Regions from separate parts of the Homo sapiens genome. Here regions 2 and 3 are each linked to region 1. Evidence: fine-mapped expression QTL. A gene starts in region 1. Each other region holds a variant in brackets. All regions are shown on one strand. Distances are between the middles of the regions. Region 1 holds the start of MARK4 (microtubule affinity regulating kinase 4). Region 2 overlaps MARK4 (microtubule affinity regulating kinase 4). Region 3 overlaps CKM (creatine kinase, M-type).

Evidence for each region. PIP is the estimated chance that this variant, and not a neighbour inherited with it, causes the effect.
Region 2: its variant is the best candidate, but not a certain one, in a credible set for the expression of MARK4 in blood mononuclear cells (TOPMed, PIP 0.66).
Region 3: its variant is the best candidate, but not a certain one, in a credible set for the expression of MARK4 in whole blood (INTERVAL, PIP 0.54).

Annotation. Positions count from the first base shown.
Region 1 is chr19:45,249,705-45,252,460 of GRCh38, reverse strand. It overlaps MARK4 (microtubule affinity regulating kinase 4), which reads right to left and starts at 1,190. Exons shown (of 17, transcript NM_001199867.2): 1 at 822-1,190. The coding sequence starts at 872. RefSeq lists an enhancer at 1-282 and silencers at 756-905, 1,136-1,515.
Region 2 is chr19:45,283,038-45,285,793 of GRCh38, reverse strand. All of the region lies in intron 12 of MARK4 (microtubule affinity regulating kinase 4), which reads right to left. Among named protein-coding and RNA genes, the nearest start is that of MARK4, 33 kb to the right of the region's middle. The variant T/C (reference allele first, on the strand shown) is at 1,486.
Region 3 is chr19:45,311,708-45,314,463 of GRCh38, reverse strand. CKM (creatine kinase, M-type) reads left to right here. Exons shown (of 8, transcript NM_001824.5): 5 at 2,544-2,715. Among named protein-coding and RNA genes, the nearest start is that of CKM, 9.8 kb to the left of the region's middle. The variant G/A (reference allele first, on the strand shown) is at 1,175.

The DNA.
Region 1 (2,756 bases):
TTGATAGAGGGCGGATGAGGCCTGGAGTCAGACTGGTCCAGGGCCTAGAAATACCAGCCTGGGTGAGGTGAGGGCCTAGAAGTTGGAGGCCAAGGCTTCCTGGGAGAGGAAGAGACCAGAAAGGGTCCAGGTGGCATCTGGGGGCCCCGGGGTGCTGGGATCTAGGGACAGGGCTGCTTGGAAGATGGGGACCAGGCCTGGGACGGGAGAGACCTTGAAGAAGCCAGAAAAGGGCCGGGGCCCAGGAGAGGTGGAAACCAGCTTCCTGCCAGGGGCTGCCCACAGGCGCCCTGGGTGCGTCCTGGAGGGGCAGAGGGCTGGGAATAAGAGGAGGGGGGCTCCTGGGGAGCCGGCACCCAGCCCCAGACAGGGAAGGCCGGAGCCAGAGGCAGGACTGGGCCAGGCCCTGCTGAGAGTGCCAGGGCCGGGCCTTGGGGGGTCAGGGGCCCTGCAAATCCGGGAGGGGGCGAGGTGTCGGACGCGGACGGCCTGGAGGGGAAACGGCTTAGCACAGGCAAGAGAAGGGAGGGGCTCCTGGAAGCAGGGGAAGGGGCTTCCTGGAGGGAACAGACCCGAGCGGAAGCGGTCTGCACGGGGACAAGAGAGGGGTCCCGAGAGAGGGGCGCCCCCAGGGGTCGGGCTGGGCTGGAAAAGGTGGGGAGGGTGGAGAGGCCTGGAAGTCCGGGAGGGGTCGAGAGGTGACGAGCCGGGTCGGGCCCAGGAAACGAGGGTAGGGGCTCGCGGGGCGAGGGGTACAACGGGGAGAAGGGTTTGGCGGCTGGACCCAGCCAGGGCTCCCCAAGGGGCCGGGCCCCACTCACCGTGTCCGAGTTCCGATCGTTGCCCGGGGCCAGCACCGTCCGCGAAGACATCTTCTCCGGGTCCCGGGGGGCAGGGGCGGCCGGGTGGGGGGGGCGGGGGTCCCAGGGTCCCCTCTCTTCCCCTCCCCCCCCGCCGGCCTGGGGACGCGAGCTCAAAAGCTGGGCGCCGAGAACGCCCGGGTCCGCGCGGCGGGAGAGGGGGCAGGGCGGGGGAGGGGAAGGGACGCCGAGGGTCCTAGTGGCCCCGTGCAGCGGGGACCCCGGGCGCCATGGGGGCGGCGGGCAGGCGGGCGGGCGGGGGCCGCGGAGGGGGCGCGGAGCCGGCCCAAGCGGCGGCGGAGGGAGGCGGTGGAGGGGCTGGGGAGGGAGGAAGGGACGTCAGGGGGAGGGGCGGGCAGGGCGGGGCGCCGGGACCCCGCCCCCCGCCGCCGGCCCTTAAAGGCGCAGGCCCGGGCTGGTCGGGGCGCCGGGGGCTCCGGGGGCTCCGGGGGCGGAGGCGGGTCTGGGCACGCCGGCGGGGAGCGTGTTCTCGCCCGAGACGAGAGGCGCACTGGAGAGGAGAGAAGGGGAGAGAGAGGCCGGGGCAGAGCGCCAGAGACGCAGAGAGAGAGATCGAGAGACGTAGAGATAGAGAGACACGAAGAGAGAGAGACGAGTTACAAAAGGGTGGAGAGGCGCAAGGAGATGAAGGAAGAGCCAGATGACAGAGAGAGAGAGACGCAGGGAGACAGAGACAGAGAGACCCAGAGACGCAGAGGGACAAAGACTGAGAGAGACCCCACACACACACAGGGAGAGACAAAGAGATACAGAGACGCAGAGATCTGTGAAGAGATAGAGATAAAGGGACTGAGCCAGAGAAGACCCCAGAGGCGCTGCCCACATTGTCCCTCCCCCTGGCCCATTCTCTCCCCAGTTGGCGGGGGGGAGCGGGGGAAGCTCTCCCCTCGGAGGCCTAAGGGTGGGGTGGGTGAAGGGGATGGTGTGCGGGGCTTGGCCACTGCTGAGGGCTCAGTGACCTCCCTAGTCAGGCTGCCTCCACTCAGCCACATAGATCCAGACCCGCAGGTTGGGGCTGCAGCATCCACTCCTTTGCACCCCAGCTGGGGTGTGGGGACCCTCTCTGTCCACCTGTATGACCCGGGGCAAGCACTTGCCCTTTCTGGGCTTCACTTTCCCAGTTTGTAAAGTGAAAGGAAGAATCCGTGTGTTGCTCACTGGCAGGTGCGAAGGAACCCTGTGCAGGTATTCGCCTGCAGGGCACAGCCACTCCCCATGCGGGCAGGCTGAGACCAGAGAGGACAAGAGCCTCTCGGAGGCCACACAGCGCTGTGGGGACCATCCATGCTCTGTGGACCAGGGTGGGATGAAAGAAAGACAGGCATTACATAGTCTTGGCCTGGGAGTCACATGGTTTTGGGAAGGGGTCTGTGCCCTGCCTTCTTCTATCTGAGGCTTATTTTCCTGAGCCTCAGTTTCCCCTTCTAAAACAGCAGTGTGCTGGATCTGGCTGGAGCGAGCTGATTGTTATGTCTCAGGAATTTTGGAACTGGTTGTTAAACACAGCCATTATTAAAAATTAAATTATGCAAACATACAATTAAATTACATTAAAGGTACAAGTAATACATACTCATCACGTCCTAGTTATCTTACTACATTTGCCATTATCTGTGATCTTGAGGTTACCTACGTCTATTGTAGCTGCACAGTAAAATTACTATATAATGGGGGGCAAAAATGCCATGTGATATCACCTTGGTAGCTTGAAATTAGCCATGGTGGGAATATTTACACCATGGAAATTGGCAAATGCTACAAATTAAGGCTCCACACCCCCACCTGCAGAGAGCTGGGGGTGTTTTGTTTTGCTTTGCTTTGTTTTGTTTTTGAGACAGGGTCTCACTGCATTACCCAGGCTAGAGTGCAGTGGCA
Region 2 (2,756 bases), 33 kb before region 1:
CATGCTCAGAAGTCCCAGAACCACAAGCTGAGAGCTCTACAATGACAATGACAGATACCTGGCACCTGCCAGCAATCCCTCTCTGAGAATCCCTGGAACTCAGGTCTCAGTGTGGGGAGTTCTGAAGGTTACCACGTTCTAACCATATGATACCAAAGTCACAAGCTCCTTAGGAACTTTCTGGGCACGCCCTGTCATTTTACAGGTGGGAAAGACAAGACGCAGGGGCAGGGAATGGTTTGACCTCCAGCAATGGTGGGGGTAGGGCAGAAGCACCACTTCCCGTGTGGGGCTCATGCTGGGTCTCAGATTCCCTGACACCTCTCTCCTCCCTCACTTCAGTGTGGAGGGGAGGTCAGAGCGCAGGCTTTCAGCAGCCACTTTGTGCAATGTGTCCTCCTGTGCCCCCATTACAGCAGATTAATCCCAACTGGACTCGATATCAGAGCTCCATCCTGATCCTGATGAGTGGACCAAGGAGATTCTAGCTAACACTTGGGCTGGATTCTTTTTTTTTTTTTTTTTTTTTTTTGAGACACGGCAGTCTGGCTCTATCGCCCAGGCTGGAGTGCAGTGGCACGATCTGGACTCATTGCAACCTCGGCCTCCCAGGCTCAAACCATCCTCCCACCTCAGCCTCTCAAGTAGCTGGGATTACAGGTGCACACCACCATGCCCAGCTAATTGTTTTGTTTTGTTTTTGAGACAGAGTCTTGCTGTTGCCGCCCAGGCTGAAGTGCAATGGCACAATCTCGGCTCACTGCAACCTCTGCCTCCCGGGTTCCAGCAATTCTCCTGCCTCAGCCTCCCAAGTAGCTGAGATTACAGGTGCTCACCACCACACCCGGCTAATTTTGATATTTTTAGTAGAGACAGGGTTTCACCATGTTGGCCAGGCTGCTCTCAAACTGCTGACCTCAGGTGATCCACCCAGCTCGGCCTCCCAAAGTGCTGGGATTACAAGGCAAGAGCCACTGCGCCCAGCCTAATTTTTGTATTTTTCTGTAGAGATGAGGTTTCATCATGTTGCCCAGGCTGGTGTCGAACTTGAGAGCTCAAGTGATCCACCCAATTCAGCCTCCCAAAGTGCTGGGATTACAGGCGTAAGCCACTGCACTCAGCCCTGGGCTGGATTCTAAAACTGAGATGTAAGAAATCTAGGAGCGGGCCAGGCGCGGTGGCTCATGCCTGTAATCCCAGCACTTTGGGAAGCCAAAGCCAAAGCAGGTGGATCATGAGGTCAGGCGATCAAGACCATCCTGGCTAACACAGTGAAACCCCATCTCTACTAAAAATACAAAAAATTAGCTGGGCGTGGTGGTGGACACCTATAGTCCCAGCTACTCGGGAGGCTGAGGCAGGAGAATGGCATGAACCCGGGAGGTGGAGCTTGCAGTGAGCCAAGATTGCGCCACTGCACTCCAGCTTGGGCAACGGAGCGAGACTTTGCCTCCAAAAAAAAAAAAAAGAAAAGAAATCTAGGAG[T/C]GGCTGGGCACAGTGGCTCACGCCTGCAATCCCAGCACTTTGGGAGGCCGAGGCGGGTGGATCACCTCAGGTCAGGAATTCAAGACCAGCCAGGCCAACACGGTGAAACCCTGTCTCTACTAAAAATACAAAATTAGCTGGGCAAGGTGGCTTGTAATTCCAGCTCGGGGGCCTGAGGCAGGAGAATCAGTTGAACCTGGGAGACTGAGGTTTCAGTGAGCCACCATCGCACCACTGTACTCCAGCCTGGGCGACAGAGTGAGACTCTGTCTCAAAAAAAGAAAAAAAAGAAGAAATCTAGGAGCTGAGAGATCTAGAAAAAGATAAGGTGAGATATGTAAGACAGAGAAAAAAAAGATTAGACAAGCAGACAGCCTAGTACCTGTCCCAGAGTAAGAACTTCACCCCTGCAGACAAGCAGGGCTGTAAAACGAACAGAGTTGGAAAACACCCTGAAAGTTCCTCAAACTATTATTAAACACACAGTTACCAGATGACTCAGCAATTCCACTCCCAGATACGTACCCAAGAGAAATGACGGCAAAACACAGCCACACAAAAACACGGATACAAATGTTCACAGCAGCATCATTCACAACAGCCAAAAAGTGGAGGCAATCCACGTGTTCATGAATGGATAAACAAAATGTGGTCTATCTATGCAATGGAATATTACTTGCCAATGAAAAGGAATGAAGTGCTGATACCCATATCATGGATGAACCTTGAAAACTTTCTGCTAAATGAAAGAAGCCAGTCACTGAAGGCCACACATCGTGTAATTCCATTTACCTGAAATGTCTAGAATAGCCAAATTCATCGACATAGAAAGTAGATTAGTAGCTGAGGGTGGAAGGGGGATTGGAAGTTGATTTTTTTTTTTTTTTTTTTTTTTTTTTGAGAGGAAGTCTCACTCTTATCGCCCAGGCTAGAGTGTAGTGGCGCGATCTCAGCTTACTGCAACCTCCGCCTCCCAGGTTCAAGCAATTCTCCTGCCTCAGACTCCTGAGTAGCTGGGATTACAGACGCCTGCCACTACGCCCGGCTAATTTTTGTATTTTATAGTGGAGATGGGGTTTCGCCATGTTGCCCAGTGGTCTCGAACTCCTGCGCTCAGGTGATCTGCCTGCCTCAGTCTCCCAAAGTGCTAGGATTACGGGCATGAGCCACCATGCCCTGCCTGGAAGTTGATTGCTAAAAGTTGTGAATTTTCTTTTTGGGGTAATGAAAATGTTCTGAAATCGGTCATCATGATAGATGTACAACTCTAT
Region 3 (2,756 bases), 62 kb before region 1:
CCAGCCTGGGGGACAGAGTGTGACTCCATCTCAAAAAAAAAAGTTATGTTTATCCTATACTGTAGTCTGTTAAGTGCACAATAGCATTATGTCTAGAAAAAAAAAAGTACATACCTTAATTTTAAAATCCTGCTAAAAATGTTGTGATCATTTGAGGACTCAGCAAGTTGGAACCTTTCTGTTGTGTAGGGCCTTGCCTTGATGTTGATGGGCTGCTGACTGATCAGGGCGGTTGTCGTTCAAGGTTGAGATGGCTGCGGCAATTCCTTCCTTCCTTCCTTCCTTCCTTTCCTTTCTTTTCTTCCTCCCTTCCTTCCCTTCCTTCCCTCCCTCCCTTCCTTCCCTTCCCTTCCCTTTTCTTCTCCGTCCTTCCTTCCTTCCTTCTTTCCTCCCTCCCTTCCTCCCTTCCTTCCTTCCTTCTCTTTCTCTCTCTCTTTTCAAGACAGGGTCTTGTTCTGTTGCCCAGCTGGAATGCAGTGGTGCAATCATGACTTACCATAACCTCCAACTCCTGGGCTTAAGTGATCCTCCCATGTTGGTCTCCCAAAGTGCTGGCATTACAGGTGTGAGCCACAGTGCCTGGCCAGCAGTAATAGTTTGAAAAGAATCTCTTTTTTGAGATGGAGCCACACTCTTGTCGCCCAGGCTGGAGTGCAGTGGTGCAATCTTGGCTTACTGTTACCTCCACCTCGTGGTTCAAGCAATTCTCGTGTCTCAGCCACCCAAGTAGCTGAGATCACCGGCATGCGCCACCACGCCTGGCTAATTTTTGTATTTTTAGTAGAATCGGGGTTTCGCCATCTTGGCCAGGCTGGTCTCAAACTCCTGATCTCAGGTGATCTGCCTGCCTCAGCCTCCCAAACCACTAGGATTACAGGCGTGAGCCACCGCACCTGGCCTATGAAGCTTTTTATTTAAAGTGAAAAATGTTGACTCTTCCTTTCACTTGAACACCTCGAGGCCATTGTAAGGTTATGAACTGAATTGGCCTGATTTCAAAATCATGTGTCTCAGGGAATACGGAGGCTCAAGGAGATGGGGAGAGATGAGGGAATGGCTGGTCAGTGGGGCAGTCCGAGCACACACATTTATCCATTAAGTTCACCCTTTTATATGGGCAAGGTCGGTGGCACCCCCCAAAATTAAAACAGTAACATCAGAGATCACTGATCAC[G/A]GATCGCCATGACAGATATAGTAATAATGAGAAAGTCTGCAGTACTGTGAGAATTACCCACATGTGACACAGAGACACGAAGTGGCACATGCTGTAGGAAAAATGGCTCCAATAGACCTGCTGGACAAAGAGTTGCCACAAACCTCCAATTTGTAAAAAACACAGTATCTGCAAAATGCAATAAAACGAGGTATGTCTGTATATTATATGAATATGTATAAGATATATAAATATTATAGATTTATTGTACATATGCACAAACACAAATTCATTATACACATATTTTATACATGAATATACAAATAAACACACAATTTTTTTTCTTTTTTTTTTTTTTAGACAGAATCTCACTCTGTCACCCAGGCTGGAGTGCAGTGGCAAAATCTCAGCTCACTGCAACCTCCACCTCTTGGGTTCAAGTGTTTCTCGTGCCTCAGCCTCTTGAGTAGCTGGGATTACAGGCGTGTGCCACCATGGCCGACTAATTTTTGTATTTTTAGTGGAGACGGGGTTTCACCATGTTGGCCAGGCTGGTCTCAAAATCCTGACCTCAAGTGATCTGCCTGCCTTGGCCTCCCAAAGTGCTGGGATTATAGGCATGAGCCACTGCGCCCAGCCTACAATTTTTTTTTTTTTAAAGATTGGGGTCTTGGGCCAGGCGCCCAAGTGGAGAAACCCCGTCTCTACTAAAAATACAAAATTAGCCGGGCATGGTGGCGCATGCCTGTAATCCCAGGTACTTGAGAGGCTGAGGCAAGAGATTCGCTTGAACCCGGGAGACGGAGGTGGCAGTGAGCCAAGATCGCGCCATTGCGCTCCAGCCTGGGCAACAAGAGCAAAACTCCGTCTCATAAAAAAAAAAAAAAAAGATGGGGGTCTTGCTATGTTACCCAGACTGGACTCGAACTCCTGGGCTTAAGTGATCCTCCTGCCTCAGCCTCCCCAGTATCTGGACTACAGGCTCGTGCCAGTGCACCTGGCTACCATTCTACTTTATAATAATTTTTACTAATGGCCTCTCAAAGTCCTGAGACTTCAGCCATCTGTGTTGCCAGCCATTAGGAGCAGGCACCAGCACACTGTGGCCTGCAGGTGGATTGGATGTGAGGGTCCCTCAGGGGAAGAGGTGGGTCTGTTTTCCAGATTGAGCACATGGGGTGGCCATTCCTGGGGGCCTGGACAGATGGCAGGAACAGATTTTGGGGAGCCGTCACAAGTGTGGGTTTAGACACAGGGTTCAGGTGCCTTTAGGACATCCAGGGGGCCAAGGCCCAGGCCCGTTAGGAGCAGCAGCAGGGGAAACCCTGGGCCTCCACACCCTGGTTGAGGTGGGACAGGCTGCTGACCACTCCCTCGTGTGTCCCCATAGCTCTCAACAGCCTGACGGGCGAGTTCAAAGGGAAGTACTACCCTCTGAAGAGCATGACGGAGAAGGAGCAGCAGCAGCTCATCGATGACCACTTCCTGTTCGACAAGCCCGTGTCCCCGCTGCTGCTGGCCTCAGGCATGGCCCGCGACTGGCCCGACGCCCGTGGCATCTGGTGAGGCCCCTCCCCGCCCCCTGGCTTCCTCTTCCCCCAGC